Regions from separate parts of the Homo sapiens genome. Here all the other regions are linked to region 3. Evidence: fine-mapped expression QTL. A gene starts in region 3. Each other region holds a variant in brackets. All regions are shown on one strand. Distances are from middle to middle.

The links. PIP is the estimated chance that this variant, and not a neighbour inherited with it, causes the effect. A credible set is the group of variants that fine-mapping cannot tell apart.
Region 1: its variant is the best candidate, but not a certain one, in a credible set for the expression of IFI35 in tibial nerve (GTEx, PIP 0.60).
Region 2: its variant is the best candidate, but not a certain one, in a credible set for the expression of IFI35 in prostate (GTEx, PIP 0.51).
Region 4: its variant is the best candidate, but not a certain one, in a credible set for the expression of IFI35 in lung (TOPMed, PIP 0.80).

Annotation. Positions count from the first base shown.
Region 1 is chr17:42,789,477-42,797,556 of GRCh38, reverse strand. It overlaps WNK4 (WNK lysine deficient protein kinase 4), which reads right to left. Exons shown (of 19, transcript NM_032387.5): 12 at 3,828-3,965; 13 at 2,889-2,943; 14 at 2,175-2,785; 15 at 2,036-2,096; 16 at 1,524-1,932; 17 at 1,235-1,434; 18 at 979-1,076; 19 at 491-871. The coding sequence ends at 869. Among named protein-coding and RNA genes, the nearest start is that of COA3, 5.2 kb to the left of the region's middle. The variant G/A (reference allele first, on the strand shown) is at 3,757.
Region 2 is chr17:42,262,984-42,271,063 of GRCh38, reverse strand. The region is part of intron 1 of STAT5B (signal transducer and activator of transcription 5B); the gene reads left to right. Among named protein-coding and RNA genes, the nearest start is that of STAT5B, 9.4 kb to the left of the region's middle. The variant AAGG/G (reference allele first, on the strand shown) is at 3,784.
Region 3 is chr17:43,003,178-43,011,257 of GRCh38, reverse strand. IFI35 (interferon induced protein 35) reads right to left here and starts at 4,474. Exons shown (of 7, transcript NM_001330230.2): 1 at 4,290-4,474. The coding sequence starts at 4,310. RefSeq lists an enhancer at 4,305-4,614.
Region 4 is chr17:42,496,186-42,501,185 of GRCh38, reverse strand. It overlaps ATP6V0A1 (ATPase H+ transporting V0 subunit a1), which reads right to left. Exons shown (of 22, transcript NM_001130021.3): 15 at 2,144-2,262; 16 at 263-479. Among named protein-coding and RNA genes, the nearest start is that of MIR548AT, 3.9 kb to the right of the region's middle. The variant A/G (reference allele first, on the strand shown) is at 2,382.

The sequences.
Region 1 (8,080 bases), 210 kb after region 3:
TGGCATTGCCCCAGGGAGCTGTAAATGTTTAACTAGAATTACTTTTTCCATGAGATCTTTCCACCTGATTTAAGGGAGAGATCACTGGGCAGTTTGAGACTGAACCCACGTCTTAGGGGAAGGAAGGTCACTCTTCTGTCCTCTACCCACAAGAACATACTGTAACTCTACTGCTTTTCCCATCCCCAGAGAGAGGGAGGGAGAGAGAGGTGGATGAAGGGTGAAAGACAAGCAGTCTTCATTCTTTTAACTTTCCCTGGTACCTGCCTATACAGGTCTAGGGTGGGGTCTGGAGGGGATCCTAACTTAGTCAAGTGGATCACTGACCTTGCAGTTTCCTCATTAACTGATGGCAGGAAGCCAGAGGGCTGGGCAGCTTCCACCCCTGCCTCCCATTGTGAAAAGAAAGTCCCTTTTAAATCCTCCCCTGCCTCACCCCACAAGTCTTTGCTCCCCCAATTCCTAAGGCATGGCATATGGATTCACGGCGTTCTTGTTTCCAGCATTTTTATTGGTTGCTGCTAATGTGGTGTGAGCATATCCCCTACACTCTCCCAGCTGGGAGTGGGCCCCTCTAGAAGCATCCAGGCTTGGGTGGGATTGCTTAGTGGTTGACTCTTGGCAGGGGAGGTGCTAGAGATGAAGATGGTAGGCAGCAGAACTAACACCTCCACACAGCAAACAGTTCACATATGTTTGGCTCTTCACTATAATGGAGCTGCACTCTCCATGCCCCCCTGGCCTTCTACCCCTTCAGTGTTGGGATCTTCCTTGCTCAGTTTTGTTGATCAGAAAGCATCAGATTCTGAGAACACAAGCTCCATGGTGGGCCCTGGTGTGGGGGAGATACATGGCTTCTGTTCTGAATTCACTGGAGGGAAAAGAAAAAGTGATGAAGAAACCTCCAAGGTGGGAGGAAGGCGAAGCTGCAGCCAGGTACCATTCCCTGGGCTCTCCCTCCCTTGGGCCCGCCCTCACCATCCTGCCAACATCCCCGGCGAATGTCACCCCCTTGCTTGCCCGCTGCTCCTGGGAGCCGGTGCTGCTGCCACTCAGAGAGTTCCTTCGCATGATGCCTGGGAGCAGGATGGGGGAAGGAGAGCACTAAGTGAGGAAAGGGGAGGTGGGGAGAGGGGGTCTATTCCCCCGGGGCAGACCCCCAGGGCCTGGAGAAAAACAGTCGACAGAAAGGGGTCTCAGGGAAAAGATGGAAGCTGGGTGACTGCAGTCTCACCAGGGCCTGGGGGCTCAGAGCGCTGTAGGCTGTTGCGGCGGGAGGTGGGGAAGCTGCCCTTGGAGAGGCGGCGCTGGCGGCTGGACAGCATAGCAGCTGGGGCCACAATACCCGGTGGGGGCTGCTTCCCCAGCCGGCTGTACAAATCTTCAATTTCTTTTTTCTGTAGTGTCTGTAGTGTTTCCACCTCTGACAAGTGCCTGAGGATGCACGGAGGGCATGAAAGGGCTAGCCACACACCTTGCTCTCCCAGGTTCTCCTCTCACTCCTCCATCCTCCCGAGACTCACTTCTGCCGAAGACTCTGCAGCTCAGCCCAGAACTCCTCATCTTCCCCACTGCTTTCTGACTCCTCGCTGCTCAAACACAGGCTGCTGTAGGAGTAGTTCATCCACACTGGGCTGGGATGGCTCAGGGGTTGGGGGCTGCCCCCAACTTGGGGTTCCTTCCCATCATCTCCTTCCTCCTCAACTCCAGCCCCCAGACCCTCAGCTGCACGGTCGCTCTCAGCCAGAGCTTCCCTGGTCTCTGGCCCGCCTCCAGCACTGTCCTCTGTATCTGAGCTCTCTGAAGTGAGCTGAGGGGTTGAAGGTTTTGGAGAACCAGAGAGAGTGGGGGATGTTGGCTGCAAGGGAAGAGGCTCAGCCGGTTCCTTGGATGAAGTCACTTGGAAACGCCCAACAAGCTGCGGCTTTCCCTCTGTAGGGCGACGAGGAAGAAGGCATGAGGAAAGGAGAGCAGTGACAGGACAGACAGTGAGTAGGGATAATGGCAGGGGAAGGTCAGTGGTCAGAGGCCTTACCTTCAGAGATGGGCGCCAGCCTGGCTTCCCCTGGGAGGGGCCGAGCAGGAGGTGGTGAGGCCTAGAAAGTGGGGGGCCATGAGAAGGGAAGAGTGCAGAGTGGAGTCTCCCTAATCATCCCTCTTGGTTTTCTACTCACCTCACTCTCCACCTCAGCTGTGTGGGGTGAAGGGCTTTCCTGGCCACCAGGAGCAACGGGAGGGGGAAGGGGCAGGCTAGGGAGGGGACTAGGAGGGGCTGGAGGAGACTGGGAAAGGAGCCCAGGTGAGGGGGACAGCAGGGACTGGGCCACAGTCATCACAGCCAGTGAGAAGGCACTAGCCAGAGAAAGGAGAGGGGCTGCTGTGGTGGAGGGGAAGGAAGAAGTGGAGGGGCACGGAGGAAAGAAAGGGGAACTAAGAGTGACCTGAGAACAAGTGGGAGAGAACGTAGGTGGAGAAGTCGTGGGGAGAGAACTCCAGGGACACTGAGAGAGTGGGACCGGAAACTCGGGTGTGCTGGAGGAGAATGGAAGTGGAGAGCTGGTGGGGTGTGGAGAGGGATTTGAGGAGACCTGGGAAGAAATGGGGGAGAATGGGGAGGGGCTGGGATGACATGGGGGAGAAGTGATGGGGAAGATGGGACCTGGGGAAATGGGGGTTCCAGGGGAAAATGGGTTTCCAGGAGACAAAGGAGTTCCAGGAGAAGATGAGGAGGTGGAGAAGGCTGTCCAGCTCCTGTGCTCCAGGGAGGTGCTGCTCTGGAGCTCTTCTGGGAAGGAGGGTATGTTGAGACCACAGTCCCACATGCCCTATGCCCTTCCCAGGAGCAACCCCAGGGGTTGGGATGAGCAAGGACACAACTCAGTACATACCATTGGATGGGTCTGGGAGGGGGACGGGCAGGGCAGGTAATGGTGCTGGCTCCTCCTGAGGCAGAAAAAGGAGTCCGCAGTCACAGTGGGGAAGAGCAGTCTGAGATGGAAGGTGTCAGACCGGGGTTCCTAAGCTAGGACCCATGAACCTATAGGAGTCTGTACATGAGTTTCAAGGGATTCAGAAGCATATGTGCTGAAATGTATAGAGGTAAAAGGGCATGATGTCTGCAACTTACTCTTAAGTGGTTCCGAAAAATATATTATGTATGCACACATACAGAGGGGAGAGGAAGAGACAATGATGACGCTAAGGTGGCAAAACACTAACAAGTGGCAAATCTGGGCAAAGGGTATCCAGTGGTTCTTTATATAATTCTTGCAACTTCTCTCCACAAGTCTGAAATTATTTCAAAATAATGAGTTAAAAGAAAAGTATGTATTGAACAAGTTTTCTAGAACAAGAGTCCATGGCTTTCATCATATTCTCAAATGGGCTAAGAGCCACTGTTTTAGGCCAGGCACGGTGGCTCACACCTGTAATCCCAGCACTTTGGGAGGCCGAGGAGGGCGGATCACGAGGTCAGGAGATCGAGACCAGCCTGGCTAACACGGTGAAACCCTGTCTCTACTAAAAATACAAAAAAAATTAGCCGGGTGTGGTGGCGAGCGCCTGTAGTCCCAGCTACTCGGGAGGCTGGGACAGGAGAATGGCGTGAACCCGGGAGGCGGAGCTTGCAGTGAGCCGAGATCGTGCCACTGCACTCCAGCCTGGGCGACAGAGTGAGACTCCATCTCAAAAAAAAAAAAAAGCGCCACTGTTTTAGGGTCCCAGAGATGAAGAGGAGTTAAATCCAAGGGGACCGCT[G/A]AGGGCAGAGAGTAATAAACCCTGGAGCAGAGAGTCCATTTCCCCTGGAAGTGTCCACCAAGGGGTCTGACCTGGGGGCTTAGGGTGTCTTCAGCAGCCTCCATGGGGCCAGTGTCTCTCTTCAACAGGGTCTCCACTCGCTGGATAATCTCCCGAATCCGTCTGAGAAATCCATCTCGCTCCGAAGGCAGAATGAACTCGTTATATACCTTGCGAGGGTCAACAGGATGGGGAGGGAGAGCTTGTTATCTCACTCATCCCTCTCCCCCTGCTTCTGATCTTAAAACATCAGGCTGGGCGCGGTGGCTCACGCCTGTAATCCTAGCACTTTGGGAGGCCGAGGCGGGCGGATCACCTGAAGTCAGGAGTTTAAGACCAGCCTGGCCAACATGGTGATACCCTATCTCTACTAAAATACAAAAATTAGCTGGGCATGATGGCGGGCACCTGTAATCCCAGCTACTTGGGAGGCTAAGACGGGAGAATCACTTGAACCTGGGAAACGGTGGAGCCAAGATCACACCACCGCACTCCAGCCTGGACGACTGAGCGAGACTCCGTCTCAAAAAAATAAAAATAAAAAATCCACCCTTCACACTACTGCTCCTGCCAACCACCAACCTAAAACAAGTAAATACCTATTGTGTTCCAGGCACTGTGTGGTGTAAGGAGAAATACAGCCTAGAAGGAAAGGTGCTAACATTCATAGGATGCGTATATATACCAGCTGCTTTGCGTATATTATCACATTTAACACCACCAGTAACTTTCTGGGGCCCACATTAATATTGCTATGGTAGAATTAAGATAACCAATGCTCAAAGAGGTTAAGTTCCGTCTGCCTAAGGTCACAGGATTTAAACCCACATCTACCTAAAGCCAGAGCCTGAGTTATCTTCACTGCTGCCTCCCATGTTTTGGACACAATTTCTGCCCCATAGTGTTTATAAAGTATAACACACAGGCCCACATACACCCATCCCACACGGTTAAGTCAGAATAAGGCAATAAATGGCAAATGTCACATTCAAATCCATGAATACTTATTGAGCACCTACTATGTGCTGGCATTGTGCTGGGTACTGTGGGAATACAAGGAAGCATGAAACAAGGTCCTAGGCTTAACGAAGCCCAAAACTTAGTGGAGGAGACACATAAATACGTAATTAAACTTACTGCAAGGCAGCCCGTAATACGTAAGGCACTTACAAGTGAGATATAGATAGAAATGTTGTTCCAGGGTTGGGGGGATGGGGGTGTGGAGAGGCAGAGTTGTTTAATGGGTACAGAGTTTCAGATTTGCAAGGTAAGAAAACCCCTGGAGATCTGTTTCACAGCAATGTGAATATACTTAATATTGCTGAACTGTACACTTAAAAATGGTTACGGTGGTAAATTTTATATTTATGGTTTTTTAATCACAATTTTTTAAAATGCTATTCCAAAGACAGAATACCACCCTGGGGATAGGGGGAAGCTGGAGCAGTTTCACAGAGTAAGTCTTTGGAGCTGAACATTGACAGATGAGAAAAGCAATCTCTATTGAGGACCTACCATGTGTGGACACTTCTACATTACACTGTGTCGTATCAGAACATCTTTGCAAAACAAATACTATCATCTGCATTTTACTTACATGCAACTGAAGTTTACAGAGTTAAGAAACTTGCCTAAGTTCATTGGATTAGTAAATAACAGAGCTGAAGTTTGAACTTAGGTATTACATGAAAGCGACCCCTTCCTCTATTCCAGGCTGTTCATCAGGAAGAGAAGAGCAGTCTAGGCAGAGAGAACAGTGTAGTAGCTTTGAAGCATGAAAGGCATGGTACATTATTATTTTTTTTTTTTTTTGAGACTGAGCCTTGCTCTATCACCCAGGCTGGAGTGCAGTGGCACAATCTTGGCTCACTGCAACCTCACCTTCTGGGTTCAAGAGATTCTCCTGCATCAGCCTCTTGAGTAGCTGGGACTGCCTGGCACCATGCCCAGCTAATTTTTATATTTTTAGTAGAGACAGGGCTTCATGTTGGCCAGGCTGGTCTCGAACTCCTGACCTCAAGTGATCTACCTGCCTCAGCCTCCCAAAAGTGCTGGGATTACAAGTGTGAGCCACTGCGCCCGGCCTATTCAATCTTTCTTTCTTTCTTCTTTTTTTTTTTTTGAGACAGAGTTTCGCTCTTGTTGCCCAGGCTGGAGTGCAATGGTATGACCGTGGCTCACCGCAACCTCCACCTCCTGGGTTCAAGTGATTCTCCTGCCTCAGCCTCCCAAGTAGCTGGGATTACAGGCATGCGCCACCACGCCCAGCTAATTTTGTATTTTTTAGTAGAGACGGGGTTTCTCCATGTTGGTCAGGCTGGTCTTGAACTCCCGACCTCAGGTCATCTGCCTGCCTCGGCCTCCCAAAGTGCTGGGATTACAGGCGTGAGCCACCATGCCCGGCACAGCCTATTCTTAAAATAGTGAGGACTCAAGTGTAGCTGAATGTGCTGTGAATTTTAAAGGCTTTGGAATTTGGACCTTACTCTACAACCACAAGTAGCCACTAAATAATTTCGGGTGAATATCAAGAGATCAGATCCAAGTCTCAGGAGAATTCTGCTGCAGAGGAGTGGAGGGTGGACTGGGTAAGGAGAGAAAAGAGGGCAAAGGACTCTGGGTGCATGGGGTGGGGTCACTTTGGCTGTGCAGGATCAGAGGGGACTTGAAAGCCCAATACAGAAGGCTCTACGAGTGAGAGACCCTTAAGGAGGTGGAGGCAGAGGCAGGAAGGCACCCAGCCTTTTCAGAGGCCCATTTTGAAACCAGTGTGGCTGGATGGAAGACTCTGAAAGAGTCAAGTGGTTTGACGGAAGGTGATGAGCCTTGTGTGCCAGGTGATATTGTGTCTTTGTCCTGGACACAAGGTGAATGACATGATGGAGGAGATGCTTTAGAGAGGGCTCCTGATGCCTGGTGTTTCTCCCATTCCTTTCCCTCCTTCACCCCATGGGCTGGCATCCACCACCCCCACTCCACTGAAACTGGTCTCCCACAAAGATCTCCTAACAAAAGCCAGTGTGGTCTTGCCTGAGGATTCATCCTATGCCACCTCCTTGAAACTCTCTCCTCACTCAGTTTTGACTAACATCCTCCTACGTCTCTGGCTTTGTCTCTGTGTCCTTCGATGACCTACCCTCCCGCTTCCCACTCCAGAACTGGTGGTATGCGCTGAGACACACTCTGCAACCCTCTGTGTCTCTGGCTTTGCCGGCTCATCTCCCTTCACTCTCAACTCTGTACTGACTACTCCTCCATCCACATCTCTCCAGCCCTGCCTGACCCATATCCATGGCTATGGAGGGTCTTGTCTTGGCTGTCCCTTCTTCACTCAAGCTCATCATGACCTCCTTAAAAAAAACCTTCTTTCATTTCTAATTTCCTCTCTCCTTTGGTGGCCTACTCTCCTACTCTCCTTTGGTGGCCTACAAGTTGTCCTTGACATCCCTTCTCCCTAACTCCCAATCATATCAACTCAGCAAATATTTATTGAGCATCTACTATGTACTATGTTCTCTACTACGTCAATAGGTTACTGGATTACAGAGTAACTTATTTTCCCGAAACAACCCTCAGATTCACCCTTTCTCCTCTTCCCTCCCATAAGCCACTCTCTCCTTTGTCCACAGATGGCTTCCTGGGTCTACCTCCCAGGTATTTTCCCTTCCCCCTTCCACATCCCATGGCAGATGATTTTCATAAAGCCTACTGTCACGTTACACTGTGCCTTTTTGTTTTTTTGTTTTTGTTTTTTTTTGAGACAAAGTTCACTCTGTCTTCCAGGCTGGAGTGCAGTGGCGTGATCAAAGCTCACTGCAGCCTTGACCTCCCAGGCTCAAGTGATCCTCCCACCTCAGCCTCCCAAGTAGTTGGGATGACAGGCATGTGCCGCCACACACGGCTAATTTTTTAAATTTTTTGTAGAGATAGGGTCTCATTATATTACCAGGGTGGTCTTGAACCCCTGGGCTCAAGCAATCCTCCTACTTCATCCACCCAAAGTGCTGGGATTACAGGTGTGAGCCACTGGACCTAGCCTGCTCTGCCTCTCTATTTATTTATTTATTTATTTATTTATTTATTTATTTATTTATTTTTAGACAGAATCTCACTCTTGTCGCCCAGGCTGGAGTGCAATGGTGTGATCTCGGCTCACTGCAACCTCCGCCTCCCGGGTTCAAGCAATTCTCCTGCCTCAGCCTCCCAAGTAGCTGGGACTACAGGCATGCGCCACCACACCCAGCTAATTTTTGTATTTTTTAGTAGAGACGGGGTTTCACCATGT
Region 2 (8,080 bases), 740 kb after region 3:
CACCTTTCGAGAGGTGAGCAGACAATTAACAAGTCCTTCAAATTATGTTCAAAACCCAGAGTTTGAGAAAATGTTCCAACGCCTTCAAGTGTGAAGATAATAAAAACATTACCTAATGCTTACCGTTCACTGACAGTGTGCTGGGCAGACATTGTTTTCAGCTCTGGCCTTGTGTTAACTCGTGATTCTCAGAGGAGTGGGTATTATTCCCAGATGGAAGATGAAGAAATGGCCACAGAGAAGTTAAGTAATTTGTCCAAGGTCACATTACTGTTCTTGGCGGGGCTGATTCCAGAGACTGCATCCCTAACTAGTGTACAGCAAAAGCGAGCTGGCCACTGCCACTTTGTTATAAGACATTTTGTTTCTTTGAGGCTTGTATTTCTTTGTGTTCCCAAATGGAGTCTCGTTGGTTTTTGAATAGAAAATATTTTTATATGTTTAGGATTTTTTTAAATGTTGATGAAGATGGTGATAAATATTTTTCCAATTAAAGTATATACTTCTGGTGGAAATTATATTAAAGAAGAGAAAGTCTTAATTTTTATTATAAGTTGTCTTTCATTCTTCTTCCCCTAGCATTACCGTGTACATCATAGAAGAAGAGCTATAAGCTGTCTCCTTGGCCTCTGTTTACAAACAAAGGGATCATTTGTGCCAATGTAGTGGGTTTGTGTTGACATGCACGTCTGTACTGAGAACTCAACAATCCCACTCATTTTATTTACAACTTTATTTTGCGGGGATTTCTGTCCTATTCTTGTTGCATTAAAGCTTTTTAGAGCATTAGTCATGATTTCTGAGACAGATTTAAGAATTTTACTTATTTGGGCTAATTTATTATTATTATTTCTTGAGACAGAGCCTCGCTCTGTCACCCAGGCTGGAATGCAGTGGCGCGATCTTGGCTCACTGCAACCTCCGTCTCCTGGGTTCAAGAGATTCTCCTGCCCAGCCTCCGGAGTAGCTAGGACTACAGGCATGTGCCACCATGCCCAGCTAATTTTTGTATTTTTAGTAGAGACGGGGTTTTGACATGTTGGCCAGGCTGGTCTCGAACTCCTGACCTCAGGTGATCCTCCTGCCTTGGCCTTCCGAAGTGCTGGGATTACAGGCATAAGCCACCATGCCCAGCCTATTTGGGCGAATTTTTAAGGCAACTGAACTATTGTATGTCTAGAGCTCTGCAAAGGCCATTAGAAAATAGTCTCAGATTTTTTTTTTTTTTTCATTTATGATGCTTACTTTCTCTCAGCACTTTTCCTTGGGAGTGGATTGTGAAGTTAAGTCTTGGAAACAGAATTCACAACCCTAAAGCGTAGTGCTTTAACTTTGGGAGATCAAGTCACAGACAAGAAGAACTTCAATTCCCTGTGCAGAGTATAAACTTGTTCAAATAAACAGAGGATGTTAGCTTCCAGGATTGTCAACTGTCACCTTTGACCAGGGTTGAATTTTCTTTGAATGTTGACAGAAGTTACAATGTCAGTGGAAAAAGCTTAATGTGAGGTATCTATAACTCAGAATTTCCTTATGTTTGTGTCAGTGAGATCCTACAATTAAAGCTGCTTCTTTTTTTCTATGTCTGATGAGTTTTAAAAGCCTTCACTGGGGTTTTCCAGCCTTTAGGTGAGAGTAAGTTAAAAAGTTTGTGAGAAACTATTTTTTGTTGTCTAAAATTCAGAGCCTAGGTCGGGCCCAGTGGCTCACGCCTGTAATCCTAACAATTTGGGAGGCCGAGGCAAGCGGATCACGTGAGGTCAGGAGTTGGAGACCAGCCTGGCCAACATGGTGAAACCCTGTCTCTACTAAAAATACAAAAATTAGCCAGGTGTGGTGGTGCACGCCTGTAATCCCAGCTACTCAGGAGGCTGAGGCAGAAGAATCACTTGAACCCAGGAGGCAGAGGTTACAGTGAGCCGAGATCGCACTACTGTGCTCCAGCCTGGGAGACGGAGCGAGACTCCATCTCAAAAAAATAAATAAATTAAATAAATTCAGAGCCTATAGCTGGTGGCAAGTCACTGTTTTTGAAGGAGTGGGATTTTAAAAAATCTAACCTGGGCTAAATGTTAAGTTACATTCATACATGTCATTGTAGCCTATATAAAAAGAAACTTGAACACTTGATCTCTTAAAGTACTAAAAATTGGAATTCATCAGCTTTGTAATATAGCATTCATTCTACAGTATATTTAAATAGGTAAAATGTTCTGTTAGAAATAATGCTAATTCTGTTTTTTTGTTTAATGTTTCTAAAAATCTTTTGGTCATCTTTTAGGTTTAGGAAAAGTAGCAAATTAGAGATCTACAGAAATCTACAGCTCTTTAAAAATGAAACAGTTCACCCTGTGAATTTGTTTGCAGGATTGGTGATCTGTTTCTGATGCCAGGAAGGTGGGACTCCTATCTCATTTCTGATAGAAAGTGAGGGAAAGCTATGTATAGTGAGAACTGGATACTAGATTCTTATTCCGAAGGCATGGAAGGTTTAATATGTAAGGATACAATGTAAATAGTCCCTCTTTTTGTATTTTTCTTTGGTTATTGTTACGTAACTATAGTCGTTTGTCACTTAATGATACATGGTGACAAAGTTCTAAGAAATGCATTAGGCGATTTTGTCATTGTGGTACCATCATAGAGGGTACTTACACAAACGTAGATGGTGAGCCCTACTGCACACCTAGGCTGTATGATAAAGCCTATTGCTCCTAGACTACAAACCTGTGGAACATGTATACTGTATTGAGTACTGTAGACAATTGTAACACAAGGGTAAGTATTTGTGTATCTAAACATATCTAAATATAGAAAAGTTACAGTAAAAACATGGCATAAAGGATAAAAAATGGTACATCTATATAGGGTACTTAACAGGAATGGAGCTTGCAGGACTGGAAGTTGCTCTGGGCAACTCAGTGGGTGAATGGTGAGTGAATGTGAAGGCCTAGGACATTACTGTACATTACTGTAGATTTTAAAAATACTGTCTGGTTAGGCTACATTAAATGTATTTTGAAAATTGTTTCTTTCTTCAATAATAACCTTAGCCTACTGTAATACTTTTACTTTGTAAACTTTTTACTTTTTTTTTTTTTTTTTGAGATGGAGTCTTGCTCTTGTGGCCCAGGCTGGAGTGCAGTGGCGTGATCTCGGATCACTGCAACCTCTACCTCCCGGTTCAAGCAATTCTCCTTCCTCAGCCTCCCGAATAGCTGGGATTACAGGCGTGTGCCACCACGCCTGGCTAATTTTTGTATTTTTAGTAGAGACGGGGTTTCACCATGTTGGCCAGGCTGGTCTCAAACTTCTGACCTCAGGTGATCCACCCACTTTGACCTCCCAAAGTGCTCGGATTATAGGTGTGAGCCGCCGTGCCCGGCCAACTGTTTACTTTTTTACACTTTTAAACTCTTTTGTAGTAACACTTAGCTTAACACATAAACATGTACAGCTGTGCAACAATATTTTCTTTATGTTTTTATTCTTTTACTTTTTCTCTTTTTAAATAATTTTTAATTTTTCAAAACTTTAAAAACTTTTTAATTTTTCAAAACTTTAAAAACTTTTTCTTAAAAGTGAAGGCATAAACACACACATTAGTCTAGGCCTACACAGGGTCAGGGTCATCAGTATCACTGTCTTGCACCTCCACATCTTGTTCCACTGAAAGGTCTTCAGGGGCAGTAACACATATGGAGCTGTCATCTCTTGTGATAACAATGCCTCCTGAAGGACCTGCCTGAGGCTGTTTTACAGTTAACTTTTTTTTTTAAGTAG[AAGG/G]AGTACACTCTAAAATAACGATAAAAAGTATGGTAAATACATAAACCAGTAACATAGGCATTTATTATCATTATCAAGTATGTACTGCACGCAATTGTATGTGCTAGACTTTCACATGACTGGCAGTGCAGTGGGTTTGTTTACACCAGCATTGCCACAAACATGTGAGTCATGCATTGCATTACAACATTATGATGGCTACAGCGTCACTAGAGGATAGGAATTTTTCAGCTACGTTTTATTATCTTATGGGACCACAGTGATATATGTGGTCTGTCATTGACTGAAACGTCATTATGTGGTGCCTGACTACATATATGGAAACTCTGAGTGTAGTCATGTTTTACAAATGAGTTTATCTTGCAGTGAGTTTAAATATCAAGTAAAAATACTAATTTCATTGTAATGTATGAAGAGATTGGCCTTTCTCCTCATGTTGAAGGTATCAAAACAAAATAGAAAATATTTGGCTTCCTGAGTGGCATGGCTACAATTCACATGCTGAGTTGGTGATGAGGCAAGATCCCTTGACTTTGCAATACCAGAAAAATGCACATAGTTAAAAAAAAATAGAGACAGGGGTCTTGCTATGTCTCCAGGTGATCCCTCCCACCTCCACCTCCACACCTCCCACCTCAACCTTCCACAGTATTGGGATTACAGGAATGAGTCACTGCACCGGGCCAAAAAGCATATAATTTTAAGGGAATGATTTTTTTTTTTTTTTTTTTATTTTTTGAGACAGTGTCTTGCTCTGTTGCCCAGGATGAGTGAAGTGTGCCAGGAGTGGGTCCTTAAGTAAGAAAACGTATTACTTTAGACACACATTTAAAATTTTGTCCAAAAATGTGATATTCTCAAAATTTATGGTTTTGAATTTTATTTATTATTTTAATTTATTATTATTATTTTTTAAAGAGTGGGGTCTCACTATGTTGCCCGGGCTGGTCTCAAAGTCCTGAGCTCAAGTGATCCTCCCACCTCAGCCTCCAGAGTAGATGGGACTGCAGGTGTGAGCCCCTGAGCCTGGCTAGTTTTGAATTTTTATTACCCAAATGTGAAGAGGTCTAGTTTGCACAGAACTTAACATTACATTCCAGTTTTATTGGTAAATTTGAACAGGATATAAGTGGCTTTAATAACTAATAAAAGAAGATACATCTTATAGATACACATATGTCTTTTTATATGTATACATAAATATTTAAAACTTCTTTATGCCAAAAAATGCCAGAAACCAAAGCTAAGTGACAAAATAAGAAAAATATTTCTAATATATATGACAAAGCATTATGGGTAAATATTCGTAATATATAAGTAATCTATATAAGTAGTAAGAAAAAGATGATTCCCATAATAGAAAATGAACAAAAGAAGAACTACAAATAGCCGATAATCATATGAAACAGTGTTCACCCATACTGGAAATCAAGAAATGCAAATAAAAATGACAAGTTTTTTCAGTTAACAGATTTATGAAGACTAAAAATATTGAAAAATAAGAGCAGTGTTGCTTGGGAATGTGGGAAACTGGCACTTTCATACTCATTGGTTGAAATGTAAATGGGTGCTTTTTTTGGATGGCAGTTTGATACATGTATTGAGAGCTTAAAAGAGTGCATACTCAAGCTGGGCATGGGAGCTCAGGCCTGTAATCCCAGCACTTTGGGAAGCTAAGGCAGTCGGATCACGAGGTCAGGAGTTCAAGACCATCCCGGCCAACATGGTGAAACCCCGTCTCTACTAAAAATACAAAAATTAGCTGGGCATGGTGGCACGTGCCTGTAATCCCAGCTACTCGGGAGGCTGAGGCAGGGAGTCAGAGGTTGCTGTGAGCCGAGATCACACTACTGCACTCCAGCCTGGTGACAGAGCGAGACTTCGTCTCAAAAAAAAAAAAGAAGAGTACATACCCTTTGACTTAGCAGTTTCATTTAGATGAATTTCATTCTAGGACATCTGAAATATGTTTAAAGATTTGTACAAATAGGCATGGGCAAGGACTTCATGTCTAAAACACCAAAAGCGATGGCAACAAAAGACAAAATTGACAAATGGGATCTAATTAGACTAAAGAGCTTCTGCACAGCAAAAGAAACTACCATCAGAGTGAACAGGCAACCTACAAAATGGGAGAAAATTTTCGCAACCTACTCATCTGACAAAGGGCTAATATCCAGAATCTACAATGAACTCAAACAAATTTACAAGAAAAAAACAAACAACCCCATCAAAAAGTGGGCGAAGGACATGAACAGACACTTCTCAAAAGAAGACATTTATGCAGCCAAAAAACACATGAAAAAATGCTCACCATCACTGGCCATCAGAGAAATGCAAATCAAAACCACAATGAGATACCATCTCACACCAGTTAGAATGGCAATCATTAAAAAGTCAGGAAACAACAGGTGCTGGAGAGGATGTGGAGAAATAGGAACACTTTTACACTGTTGATGGGACTGTAAACTAGTTCAACCATTGTGGAAGTCAGTGTGGCGATTCCTCAGGGATCTAGAACTAGAAATACCATTTGACCCAGCCATCCCATTACTGGGTATATACCCAAAGGACTATAAATCATGCTGCTATAAAGACACATGCACACGTATGTTTATTGCGGCAGTATTCACAATAGCAAAGACTTGGAACCAACCCAGATGTCCAACAACGATAGACTGGATTAAGAAAATGTGGCACATACACACCATGGAATACTATGCAGCCATAAAAAATGATGAGTTCATGTCCTTTGTAGGGACATGGATGAAATTGGAAATCATCATTCTCAGTAAACTATCGCAAGAACAAAAAACCAAACACCACATATTCTCACTCATAGGTGGGAATTGAATAATGGGAACACATGGACACAGGAAGGGGAACATCACACTCTGGGGACTGTTGTGGGGTGGGGGGAGGGGGGAGGGATAGCATTGGGAGATATACCTAATGCCAGATGACGAGTTAGTGGGTGCAGCACACCAGCATGGCACATGTATACGTATGTAACTAACCTGCACAATGTGCACATGTACCCTAAAACTTAAAGTATAATAATAAATAAATTAAAAAAAAAAGATTTGTACAAAAGGAGTGTTACTTAAAATAGCAATAAATTGGAAAAATCTTGGTATTTCCATTAGAGGTTTAATAAACTAAATCATTTATTACACCTGTGTATAGCTGTCCAATAGAATACTGTCCAGCTATTTAAATTATGTTATAAAACAATATTTAATGACCTACACAAAATTCACTATATATTACTAAATGAAAAATGAAATTACAAACAATCATATACAATTGTGCCTGGAAAAAAGAACAGGCGCTGAAAAAAGATTTCTTCTGGGTCGTGGAGTTCCCTGTGTGTGTGTGTGTGTGTGTGTGTGTGTGTGTGTGTGTGCGCGCTTTCTAGTATCTTTCCATTTTTCTATAATAAACAGATTATGGCTGGGCACAGTGACTCATGCCTATATTTCCAGCACTTTGGGAGGCTGAGGTGGGAGGATCACTTGAGTCCAGGAGTTCAAGATCAGCCTGGGCAACATAGCAAGACCCTATCTCTACAAAAAATTAAAAAATTAGCTGGGCCTGGTGGCACATGCCTGTGGTCTCAACTACTTGGGAAGATGAAGTAGGAGGATCACTTGAGCCTGGGAGTTCGAGGCTGCAATGAGCTGTGATTGAGCCACTGCATTCGTCCTGGGTGACAGAGTGAGACCTTGTCTCAAAAACAACAAATAAAAACAAACAAAAAAACAGATGATAATACAGGGAATCCTTTTGTAATCAGGAAAAAAAAGTTATCTTTAAAATGGCTGTGTGTATTGATATGTCTTAGAACGTAGAATTTGTTTTTTGTTATCAGTGTTTTCTTTTTAGAAGCAGAAAAAAGAGTTTGTGATGTTTTTGTTAATTTTTTGGTATAGTATCCTGTTTTTTGACATCTTTTGTTGAACTATGTTAAAATCATCATAATTTCATTTAACATTTTTAGAGTTTAAATAATTTGAACTTCAGGACTGTGTTATTTCCTGTGCTTCGTGGTAGCCTGTATATTTTTACACAGAAGCTTATGGAGAATTATATTGTTATATAATATAATAAATTGTTAGGGAGACAGAGGTGAAAGGATTGCTTGAACCTGGGAAGTGGAGGCTGCAGTGAGCTATAATGGTGCCATTGCACTCCCAAGCCCGGGCAATGGACAGAGACCCTGTCTCTCTTTAAAAAAAAAAAAAAATTGTTTTTGTTTTTTTATATATATATATATATATATATATATATATAT
Region 3 (8,080 bases):
TGTAAGCCACAATGCCTGGCCAATCCTTATTTTATAGATGAGGAAATTAAAGCTCAGAGAGGTTAAATGACTTGCCCAAAGTCATTTGGCCCTAGGCTGTCTGACTCCAGAGCCCACCCACTAACCTGTGCTTTACAGTGAAGAAATGAAGCCCAGAGTGGGGAGGTAGTTTACCCATCAATTCTAGCTTGTCCCTGGACTGTCACACTTTCCACTGTACACCAAGTAACCTTTTAGGCTGGGTGTGATCTGGAATGGGTCCAGAGAGAGAACTGACATCACAGGCAGGGAAGTGACACCAGGGATACCAATAAATGCACCTTTGTTTGTGGAATAGAGCAGAGTTCACCCTGTGGTTAGGAATCCTGATAAAGAAGTTCAGCTCAGAGAAGCATGAGATCTCTTGGAAAGATAGGACTCTGTTCTGACCATCTCTGTATTCCTTGTGTCCAGCAAGATCTCCGGCACAAAATATGTGTCCGGTAAAACTGTGTTGAATGAAGAAATGAAGTGAATGAATGACGGTAAAGGAGCACATTACAGAGGACACCAAAGAAATTCAGTGTGAGTTTGTTCTATTTTTAGCAGAAGAATACTAGAGCTTGACCAAATTATGCTGGTTTATGAATAGTGAAAAAGATCATTAGTTATTCATATTTCTGTAACTCAGAGAGTGCTAACACAGTGCCTTTAAGGGCCAGTTGGATGACATTAATGAGTTAATAGAGCCATGTAGGATAACAGAGAGTGGTGGGGACTCTGACGCACTGGGAAGAGCATGTCCTTTCTAAAGTAAACTGCTTCTAGCCATAACAAAGTTTCCCCCCACAGCAAATCTACCCATGTTTTTGTTTTGTTTTGTTTTTTGAGACAAAGTCTCAATGCCACCCAGGCTGGAGTGCAATTGCTCCATTATGGCTCACTGCAGCCTCGACCTCCTGGAATCAATCAATCCTCTCATCTCAGCCTCCTGAGTACAGGCGTGTGCCATCATGCCAGCTATTTTTTTTTTTTCTTCTTTTTGGGACGGAGTCTCACCCTGTCGCCCAGGCTGGAGTGCAGTGGCGCGATCTCTGCTCACTGCAAGCTTCGCCTCCCAGTTCACTTCATTCTCCTGCCTCAGCCTCCCGATTAGCTGGGACTACAGGTGCCCGCCACCACGCCTGGCTAATTTTTTTGTATTTTTAGTAGAGACGGGGTTTCACCGTGTTAGCCAGGATGGTCTCGATCTCCTGACTTCATGATCTGCCCGTCTTAGCCTCCCAAAGTGCTGGGATTACAGGTGTGAGACACCGCGCCCAGCCCTCTATTTTTTTTTCTTTTCTGAGACGGAGTCTCCCTCTGTTGCCTAGGCTGGAGTGCAGTGGCGCAATATCGGCTCGCTGCAAACTCCACCTCCCGGATTCAACAGATTCTCCTGCCTCAGCCTCCCAAGTAGCTGGGATTACAGGCACCTGCCACCACTCCTGGCTAATTTTTTTTATTTTTTATTTATTTATTTATTTTGAGACAGAGTCTCGCTCTGTCGCCAGGCTGGAATGCAGTGGCAGGATCTCGGCTCACTGCGACCTCTGACTCCCGGGTTCAAGCGATTCTCCTGCCTCAGCCTCCCGAGTAGCTGGGACTACAGGCACGCACCACCATGCCCAGCTAATTTTTGTATTTTTAGTAGAGATGGGGTTTCACCATGTTGGCCAGGATGGTCTCAATCTCTTGACCTCGTGATCCACCCACCTCGGCCTCCCAAAGTGCTGGGATTACAGGAGTGAGCCACCGTGCCCGGCTCTAATTTTTTATTTTTAGTAGAGATGGGGTTTCACCATGTTGGCCAGGCTGGTCTCAAACTTCCCACCTGAAGTGATCTGCCCAACTCAGCCTCACAAAGTGCTGGGATTACAGGCAGGAGCCACGGACCCAGGCCCCCTAATCTTCCCATTTTTAATAGAAATAAAAAATCTGGGCAGGTTGTTGTGGCACATGCCTGTAATCCCAGCACTTTGGGAGGCCAAGGGAGGCAGATCGCTTGAGCCCAGGAGTCTGAGACCAGCCTGGGCAACAGGACAAAACTCTACCTCTACAAAATATTTAAAAATTAGCCAGGCATGGTGGCACATGCCTGTAGTCCCAGCTACTCGGGAGGCTGAGATGGAAGGATCTATTGATCCCTAGAGGTGGAGGTGGCTGCAGTGAGCCATGATCCAGCCACTGCACTGCAGCCTGGAAAAAACAGTGAGATCTTGTCTCCAAAAAACAAAAAATCTGGATTTTTATTTGAAAAAGATGGCCCAATTTAACGTATATAAAGCCGGGTGCTGTGGCTCAAGCCTGTAATCTCAGCATTTTGGGAGGCTAAGGGAGGCAGATCATGTGAGGTCAGGAGTTCGAGACCAGCCTGGCCAACATGCTGAAACCCTGTCTCTACAAAAAATTAGCCATGCTGGGCACGGTGGCTCACGCCTGTAATCCCAGCACTTTGGGAGGCTGAGGCAGGCGGATCACGAGGTCAGGAGTTCGAGACCATCCTGCCTAACACAGTGCAACCCCATCTCTACCAAAAATACAAAAAACTAGCTGGGCGTGGTGGCGGGTGCCTGTAGTCCCAGCTACTTGGGAGGCTGAAGCAAGAGAATGGCATGAACCCATGGGGCGGAGCTTGCTGTGAGCCGAGATCCTGCCACTGCACTCCAGCCTGGGTGACAGAGCGAGACTCCATCTCAAAAAAAAAAAAAAAAAAAAAAAATGAGCCAGGCGTGGTGGCATGTGTGCCTATAATCCCAGCTACTTGGGATGCTGAGGCAAGAGAATCACTTGAATCTGGAAGGCAGAGGTTGCAGTGAGCCAAGATCATGCTATTGCACTTCAGCCTGGGCAACAAGAGTGAAACTCCATCTCAAAAAAAAAAAAAAAAAAAAAAGGAAAGAAAAGTCCGGGCATGGTGGCTTACACCTGTAATCCCAGCACTTTGGGAGCTTGAGGGGGGCAGATCACGAGGTCAGAAGATCAAGACCATCCCGGCTAACACGGTGAAACTCCATTTCTACTAAAAATACAAAAAATTAGCCAGGCATGGTGGAACGTGCCTGTACTCCCAGTTACTTGGGAGGCTGAGGCAGGAGAATCGCTTGAACCCGGGAGGCAGAGGTTGCAGTGAGCCGAGATCATGCCACTGTACTCCAGCCTAGGAGACAGAGTGAGACTCCGTCTCAAAAAAAAAAAAAAAAAAGGGATTGTCCTTGGGGAACTGGGGTTCTGAAAAGGTTGGCAATAATAATATTAAGAAGAAACACATATTGAATGCTCTGTAGGTGCTAAGCAGTGGGATAAGTTTTTACCGTGTTAATCTATGGATTACCTAGTGTGATTCTTAAAGTATAATTCTTATAGTATATATATATATATATATATATATAAATTTTGTGTGTGTGTGTGTGTGAGAGACAGTCTCCCTCTGTTGCCCAGAGTGGAGCATAGTGGTACAATCTCGGCTCACTGCAACCTCTGCCTCCCAGGTTCAAGCAATTCTCCCGCCTCAGTCTCCCTAGTAGCTGGGATTACAGGTGTGTGCCACCATGCCTGGCTAATTTTTGTGTTTTTAGTAGAGATGGGGTTTTGCTATGTTGGCCAGGCTGGTCTCGAACTCCTAACCTCAAGTGATCCACACGCCTCAGCCTCCCAAAGTGCTGGCTGGGATTACAGGTGTGAGCCAACACACCCAGCCTAATTCCTTTAGTTTAATTTTTTTTTTTTTTTTTTTAGACAGAGTCTCGCTGTGTCACCCAGGCTGGAGTGCAGTGATGCAATCTCGGCTCACTGCAACCTCCGCCTCCCAGGTTCAAGTGATTCTCCTGTCTCAGCCTCCCAAGTAGCTGGGATTACAGGCGCACACCACCACACACAGCTAATTTTTTGTATTTTAGTAGAGACGGATTTTCACTGTATTGCCAAGGCCTCCCAAAGTGCTAGGATGACAGGCGTGAGACACCACGCCCGGCCTAGAACAATTGTTATTTGGGTCACAGAACCCGCTGAGTATCTGATGGAAACTACAGATTCTCTCTCCAGAGAAGTGTACACACACAGGATTTAATGAGCTCCTCCTGTCTGAGGCAATAGGTTAGGGAACCAACTCTTGCAGAGGCAACCCCAGCCCTGTGTTTCTCCCCAGCCCTTCAGCAGGTCTGAGATGGGCAGGGTGAGGCTTGGCTGCCAGGCCCTGAGATATCTGCAGGTTCCTAGCCAAGAGGATTACTCCTGTTTCCCCACTTCCCAACTCCCTCCTCCTCACTTACGGCATCCAGTGGGGCTGACATGGGTCTCGGGTCTGTTTGGCAAGAGCTGAGGCTTCAGAGCTGGGCACAGTGGCAGAATTCACAGCAACTGAACTCTTGTTTGTACCCCCCAAAGGGCTGTGGTCTCTCTCAGCCCCAGCAAGACCCGAAATACACCTCAGGAGGCTCTGCTCGCAGGCTGTTTGCTTCCACTTTCATTTCCGTGAAATCCCTGCCTTCTGGCGCTCACATGCCGCCCCCTGCCGAGGCTTCCCCACCCCTGGGAGGAGCCTTCTTGGTCAGCAAAGTCGACTTCACTCAGCCAGGCTGCCTCAAGGAAAGCCACCTCACCCCAACTGCAAACTGGCCCCCATCAACCATTCCCAGCAATCTCCGACAAGCCCATTGGTAGACCCTGCTTTGTCAATGGATTATTTCCCTAGAGCCTAGAATAATGCTGGGCACATTGAACATTGATAAAATAATTGCTGAATGAGCTGGGTGCGGCGGCTCACACCTGTAATCCCAGCATTCTGGGAGGCCCAGGCGGGCAGATCACCTGAGGTCAGGAGTTAGAGACCAGCCTGGCCAACATGGTGAAACCCCACCTTTACTAAAAAAATACAAAAATTAGCCGGGCGTGGAGGTGCATTCCTGTAATCCCAGCTACTTGGGAGGCCGAGGCAGGAGAATAGCTGGAACCCGGAGGCAGAGGTTGCATTGAGCTGAGATGGTGCCATTGCACTCCAGCCTGGGTGACAAGAGTGAAACTCCATCTCAAAAAATAAATAAAACAATAATTGCTGAATGAATGAGAAACACAGTCAGGACAGATAACGCCCATAGTTCAAGTTCACAAAACTGCCGGGTGCGGTGGCTCACACCTGTAATCCCAGCACTTTGGGAGGCCCAGGTGGGCAGATCACCTGAGATCCCAAGTTAGACACCAGCCTGGCCAACGTGGTGAAACCCCGTCTTTACTAAAAAAATACAAAAATTATCCGGGTGTGGTGGTGTATTCCTGTAATCCCAGCTACTTGGGAGGCCGAGGCAGGAGAATAGCTGGAACCTGGGAGGCAGAGGTTGCATTGAGCCAAGATCGCGCTGTTGCACTCCAGCCTGAGTGACAAGAGCGAAACTCCATCTCAAAAAATAATAATTGCTGAATGAATGAGAAACACAATCAGGACAGATAAAGTCCACAGTTCAAGTTCACAAAACTGCCAGGCGCAGTGGCTCATGCCTTGTAATCCCAGCACTTTGGGAGGTCCAGGCGGGTGGATCACGAGACCATCCTGGCCACCATGGTGAAACCCTGTCCCTACTAAAATACAAAAAATTAGCCGGGCCGGATCACACCACTGCACTCCAGCCTGGGCAACAGAGTGAGATTCTGACTAAAAAAAAAAAAAAAGTGCCAATCCCAGCAGCTGGGCCCACTGGTAACATGTGCCTATAGTTCCAGCAGGTTGAGGCAGGAGGACTGCTTGAGCCCAGGAGTTCGAGGCCAGCCTGGGCAACACAGTGAATCTTGTCTCTTAAAAAAAAAAAAAAAAAAAAAAAAAAGGCTGGGTGCAGTGGCTCACGCCTGTAATCCCAGCACTTTGGGAGGCTGAGGCGGTGAATCACTTGAGGTCAGGAGTTTGAGACCAGCCTGACCAACATGGGGAAACCCTGTCTCTACTAAAAATACAAAAATTAGCCGGGCGTGGTGGCATGCGCCTGTAGTCCCAGCTACTCGGGAGGCTGAGACGGGGGAATCGCTTGAACCCGGGAGGCGGAGCTTGCAGTGAGCCGAGATCGTGCCACTGCACTCCAGCTGGGTGACAGAGCGAGACTCTGGCTCAAAAAAAAAAAAAAGAAAAAAGTTCACAAAACTGTTAACAGTGGCCAGCAAGGAGAGCTATCGTCTGCCCAACACGCTTGTGCCTTACATGAATTAACTCTTCAAAACAATGCCATGAAGTTGGTTCTATTTTCTTCACTTTACAGATGAGAAAATTGAGGCACAGAGCATTAGAAACTTGCCCAAGGTCACAGGGCTAGGAATCAAAGCATGGATCCAAACCTGGTAGGAACAGTATTTACACTTGGGCCTTGAGGTAGAGTGGAAAAAAATTTGCTGTATTTTTCCTCAAAAGTTTTAAATTCAGCCCCATTTCTGTGACCCTGAGTAGGCAAGCTACTTAATAGAAGTCTGTCTCAATAGAGATGCCTTAATACTTAAGTGTGTGAAGATTCAATTAAAAAGTTTCCTGGCTGGGTGCAGTGGCTCACACCTGTAATCCCAGCACTTTGGGACGCCAAGGTGGGTGGATCATGAGATCAGAAGTTCAAGACCATCCTGGCCAACATAGTGAAACCCCATCTCTTCTAAAAATACAAAAATTAGCTGGGTGTGGTAGCACACTCCTGTAGTCCTAGCTACTTGGGAGGCTGAGGCAGGAGAATCGCTTGAACCCCGGGGCGGGGCAGAAGTTGCAGTGAGCCGATAGTGCCACCTCGCTCCGGACTGGGTGGGTGAAAGAGCAAAACTCCATCTTAAAAAAAAGTGGCTGGGCGCGGTGGCTCACGCCTGTATTCCAGCACTTTGGGAGGCTGAGGTAGAACGATCACAAGGTCAGGAGATCCAGACCATCCTGGCTAACACGGTGAAACCCCGTCTCTACTAGAAATACAAAAATATTAGCCGGGCATGGTGGCAGGCGCCTGTAGTCCCAGCTACTCGGGAGGCTGAGGCAGGAGAATGGCGTGAACCCGGGAGGCGGAGCTTGCAGTGAGCCGAGATCGTGCCACTGCACTCCAGCCTGGGCAACAGAGCAAGCCTCTGTCTCAAAAAAAAAAAAAAAAAGTTTCCTAGTAACCTAGCCCAAAGTTTTTTCCAGTTACTCACCAATCCTACTTTTGGCCCCTTCCCGCCACCCCGCCCCCTCTGGTTCCCAAGTGCAAGTGTGGTACCTAGCAGACTTGGCAAACTGGCCTGTTTGAATCTTAGTTCCCTCTAGCGACAGAACCATTCAGATGGAGCACCTATTTCATTCATGAAACATGACTAGTTACAGTCCATTGAGAGATAAAATGCCAGATCCTAAGAACCAAATGTCTCTCCTGCACTACACAGTAGTGGCACAACCCAATGCCCCAAAGCTCCTTTGATCACTTTCTTTCAAGTCTCTGCCAGCCAGGCCATTTGAGGAGCACTCCCTTGTCCTATTAAACAGCTGCTCTAGGCTCAGGGATTCACCAAAGGCATCTGTCGTTACCACCAGGAGCAGGTCTCCAGGGTGGTCCCCATCTCACCTACACCAGTACCAGTGTCACCTGAAAACCTGCTAGAAACTCAGACCTACTGGATCAGTCTGAGGGCAGGATTTCAGCAATCCGTGGTTTAACAAACCATCCAGGTGACCTCTATCTGTGCTAAGGTTTGAGAATTTCAGGTTAGTGGTTCTCAATCAAAAATACCTGATCCCCACCACTCAGGGGCCTTTGGTTGTCACAAGGAGGGGCAGAGTGTGTGTGGCAGAGGTTCTCCTGGCATGTAATGGGTAGAAGCCAGGGAGGCTACACAATTCTTCACAGGGATTATCAGGCTAAGGACAGAGGCAGCATAAATCTCATTAAGGCAGATTTAACATTTTCCCAGCCCCTCATCCATCACCCAGCGTCTTTTTTTTTTTTTTTTTTTGAGATGGAGTCTTGCTGTTGTCAGACTGCAGTGCAGTGGTGCTATCTCAGCCCTCCCTGCAACTTCCGCCTCCCGGGTTCAAGCAATTCTCCTGCCTCAACCTCCCGAGTAGCTGGGACTACAG
Region 4 (5,000 bases), 510 kb after region 3:
GAAGAAGGACAAGGTACATCATATAAAAGTCTACCGATCACATACGCAGTTTCCAAATATGGCACAAATTTCCCCCAACAGTACTTTCTTACTAATCTATGAATAACACTATCCAATTTCTCAAAATAATTATCACATTTTGTGGCAAAGCCCTAGAATTGTCCCATAGAAGGGCAGTTATAAATTTTTTAGGGTCAGAGAAACATCTGGCTTCCTGATCAAGTATAATCATCTCAGACAGTCTGCCTCTGGGCTGACGTACCTGTCCAGAATACAACATTGAATAACCAGACTCTGGGTAGGAAAAGAGGAACATGTTTATGAAATGGATCAGAAGGCTTGGTGCATTCTCAGAGGTATGAGCATCATAGGCCGTCCACTTGTAAAAAATAAGGATAACCAAATAGCCAAACAAAGAGGTCATGAAGATTATTTCAGGAATAAATCCAAAGTAGATATTCAGGGGCTTCTTGAAATAGCTAAAAAGGAGAGAGAAAAAAATGTTAAGGGTAAATGGGCCTAGGGCCACTCCTACACTGAATGGAGTATTCACTAGATTTTTCTACTTAATACCCCCTCAATTCTGTCTTTATCACTTTAAGCAGCAGCAACCAGAAGCTGGAGACAACAGAGACAATGCAGGATTAACTATCACGGTCAAACTTTTGAACCTTGGTTTTGTTTTGCTGTTGCTTTTTCTTTTTTGAGACAGGGTCTCACTCTGCTACCCAGCCTGGAGTACAGTGGTGCAATATTGGCTCACCGCAGTCTTAACCTCCCTGGGCTTAGGCAATCCTCTTACCTCAGCCTCTCGAGTAGCTGGGACTACAGGCATGCGCCACCACACCCAGCTAATTTTTACATTTTTTTGTAGAGATGGGGTTTTGCCATGTTGCCCAGACTGGTCTTGAACTCCTGACATCAGGTGATCTGCCCGCCTTGGCCTCCCAAAGTGCAGGATGACAGATGTGAGCCATTGTGCCAGGCCTTAAACTTTTGAACCTTGAACGGCTCCAATACCATCCCCACCATTCTCTCCATGAGAAAGAGAATGGAAAAATCTAGTACATTTTGAGACCACAGTTCATAACTTTTTTTTTTTTTTTTTTTTGTAGAGATGGGGTCTTTTGCCGTGTTACCCAGGCTTGTCTTGAACTCTTGGGCTCAAGTGATCCGCCTGCCTTGGCCTCCCAAAGTGCTGGCATTACAGGTGTGAGCCCCCACACCCAGTCCACAGCTAATAATTTTATGTGAGTTGCACATCAAGGAAAAAAAGAGACCTCACTTATTTTGATGAAAATTGCTCAAGTTTTTTTCAAGGATCTTTACTGGAACAGTAAATTGTTAAAGGACTAATATTAAGTCTAATTTAAGACCATCAACATTTTTTTTTTTTTTGAGATGGAGTCTTGCTCTGTCACCCCGACTGGAGTGCAGTGGTGTTATCTTGGTTTACTGCAACCTCTGCCTCCTGGGTTCAAGCAATTCTCCTGCCTCAGCCACCAGAGTAGCTGGGATTACAGGTGCACGCCACCACACCCGGCTAATTTTTTGTATTTTTAGTAGAGACGGAGTTTCACCATGTGGGCCAGGCTGGTCTTGAACTCCTGACCTCAAGTGATCTGCCCGCCTCATCTTCCCAAAGTGCTGGATTACAAGTGTAAGCCACTGCACCCGGCCAGACCATGAAATTTATTTATTTATTTATTTTTTTTGAGGCAGAGTCTCACTCTGTCGCTCAGGCTGGAGTGCAGTGGTGCCATCTTGTCTCACTGCGACCTCTGCCTCCCAGGTTCAAGCAATTCTCCTGCCTCAGCCTCCCGAATAGCTGGGAATATAGGCGCGTGCCACTACACCTGGCTGATTTTTGTATTTTTAGTAGAGACGGGGTTTCATCGTGTTGGCCAGGCTGGTTTCGAACTCCTGACCTCAGGTGATCCACCGGCCTTGGCCTCCCAAAGTACTGGGATTACAGGCATGATCCACCGCGCCTGGCCACACCATTAAATTTTTAGAAAAGCACTTCTATAATGTAGAATGAGGTTCTGAGTTATTAATCCCTCCCCAAAGATGTCATGATTTCTTTACACAAAAGCATTCTCTAAACTATGCACATTCTTATGACAGAAATGGAACAACTCACATATGGTTGAACAGACTCAGGCTGACTCCAAACAGCATATGGATGATACCAAGGATAACAGACATCTTCATCTTAAAGGAGTTCAAGAACGTCAGTTTATTGGTAGCAATGTTCCAAATCTGTCATAACCCGAGAAAACAAATAGGTATTATAAAGAATTCTCAAAGGGAAAAATATTCCTCTGTTTAAAAAACAATTTTTATTTATTTATTTATTTAGAGACGAGTCTCGCTCTGTC[A/G]CCCAGGCTGGAGTGCAGTGGCGTGATCTCAGCTCACTGCAAGCTCTGCCTTCCGGGTTCACGCCATTCTCCTGCCTCAGCCTCCCAAGTAGCTGGGACTACAGGTGCCTGCCACCACGCCCAGCTATTTTTTTGTATTTTTAGTAGAGACAGGGTTTCACCGTGTTAGCCAGGATGGTCTCGATTCATGACCTCGTGATTCGCCCGCCTCAGCCTCCCAAAGTGCTGGGATTACAGGCGTGAGCCACCGCGCCCGGTCGACAATTTTTATTTATTAATCAATATTATTTATTATGGAAAATTCTAAACAGATACTTAAGCAGACAGGATGGTACAACAAACTCCCAGGCACCTATCACTCTGCTTCGACAAAATTTTTTTTTTTAATCTTGCTTTTGAGGAGAATGCTTCAAAAATTAACATCACCTTATAGTCATGAAAAAAGATTACTGCCACTCACTCATCTCCACATTACTAAAAAGTCCAGATATCATGTCATTTTACCTGTAAATATTTCAGTGTGGATGTCTAAAAGGAAAAGACTTATTTATTTATTTATTTATTTATTGAGATGGAATTTCGCTCTTTTTGCCCAGGATGGAGTGCAGTGTTCATGATCTCGCTGACTGCAACTTCCACCTCCTGCCTTGCCTCAGCCTCCCAGGTAGCTGGGATTACAGGCACAGGCCACGATGCCCAGCTAATTTTGTATTTTTAGTAGAGATGGGGTTTCACCATGTTGGCCAGGCTGGTCTCAAACTCCTGACCTCAGGTCTGGCCTGAGGCTTGCCTCGGCCTCCCAAACTGCTTGGATTACAGGCTTGAGTCACTGCGCCCGGCCAGTAAGGCTTTTTTTTTTTTTCTTTTTTTTTTGAGATGAACTCTCGCTCTGTCACCCAGGCTGGAGTGCAGTGGTGAAATCTCGGCCTATTGCAAGGTGGGGTTTTCACCATGTTAGCCAGGAAGGTCTCGATCTCTTGACCTCATGATCCGCCCGCCTTGGCCTCCCAAATTGCTGGGATTACAGGCGTGAGCCACCGCGCCCGGCCAGGACTTATTTTTAAAACATGACCACAATATTGTCATCACACGTAAATGCATTAACAATGATTTCTTTTTTTTTTTTTTCTTTTAGATGGAGTCTTACTCTGTCGCCCAGGCTGGAGTGCAGTGGCATGATCTCGGCTCGCTACAACCTCTGCCTCCTGGGTTCAAGCAATTCTCTGCCTCAACTTCCCGAGTAGCTGGAATTACAGGTGCTCGCCACCACGCCTGGCTAATTTTTTTTGTATTTTTAGTAGAGATGGGATTTCACCATCTTGGCCAGGCAGGTCTTGAACTCCTGACCTCGTGATCCACCAGCCTCGGCCTCCCAAAGTGCTGGGATTACAGGTGTGAGCCACCGTGCCCAGCTAACAATGATTCTTTAATATCATAAAATATATAGTCAATATTCAAATTTCTCTGATCTGTGTCCAAACCATTTTTTTTTTTTTTTTTTTTTGAGACAGGGTCTTCACTCTGTCACCCAGGCCGGAGTGCAGTTACGTGATCTTGGCTCACTGCAACCTCTGCCTCCCAGGTTCAAGCTGTTCTCCTGCCTTAGCCTCCTGCCTTAGGACTACAGGCGTGCACCACCACACCCGGCCAATTTTTATACTTCTGGTAGAGATGGGGTTTCACTATGTTGCCCTGGCTGGTCTGGAATTTCCTGACCGCAAGTCATCTGTCTGCCTCGGCCTCCCAAAGTGCTGGGATTACAGGCGTGAGCCACCGTGCCTGGCTTATACATTATGATTGTAGATATATCTCTTGAGTCTCTAAACTACAGGTTCTCCTTCCATCTTTCCTTTTTCATTCATTACAAAATTTCTTTTGAAGAAATTGGGTTGTTTATCTTATATATTTTCCCACAGTCTATGTTTCGCTGATTGTAGCCCTGTGGTGCTGTCATTCCATCTATTTTTTTGAGATGGAGTCTTGCTATGTCCCCCAGGCTGGAGTGCAGTGGCACGATCTGGGCTCACTGCAACCTCCTCCTCCCGGGCGCAAGCAATTCTTCCACAGCCTCCTGTAGCTGGGACTACAGGCATATGCCACCGTGCCCAGCTAATTTCTGTATTTTTAGTAGAGATGGGGTTTCACCATGTTGACCAGGCTGGTCTCGAACTCCTGACCTCAAGTGATCCACCTGACTCTGTGTCCCAAAGTGCTGGGATTACAGGCATGAGCCACCTCGCCCAGCCTGTATTATTTTTTTTTTTCCTCAGCAGTCAGATGCCCTGTATTACATTCTTGCCGCCACTCCATTTTTACAGCACACAATAAAGAAGACTTGATCATACTTAATTTGCCTAAGCATTTGAAAAAAAAATTAATTCTCGGATAAGTTTTTGTAAGTTCGTAAATATAAGAATGCAAGTCTAAAATCCACAGGAAAAATATATTTCTGCTTTGCTAAAATGTCTGCTAAAAATAAAAAACCAAACTAAGTAAGCAGAAATAAATTAAGAAATGGGAAGGAGTCTTGAAAAATCAATCTTCCCAGAGTCGATATTATTAACCACCTCAGAAATAAGCAGCGCAGGGAAAAGTATGTGGCTCCTCAAGGCACTTGGG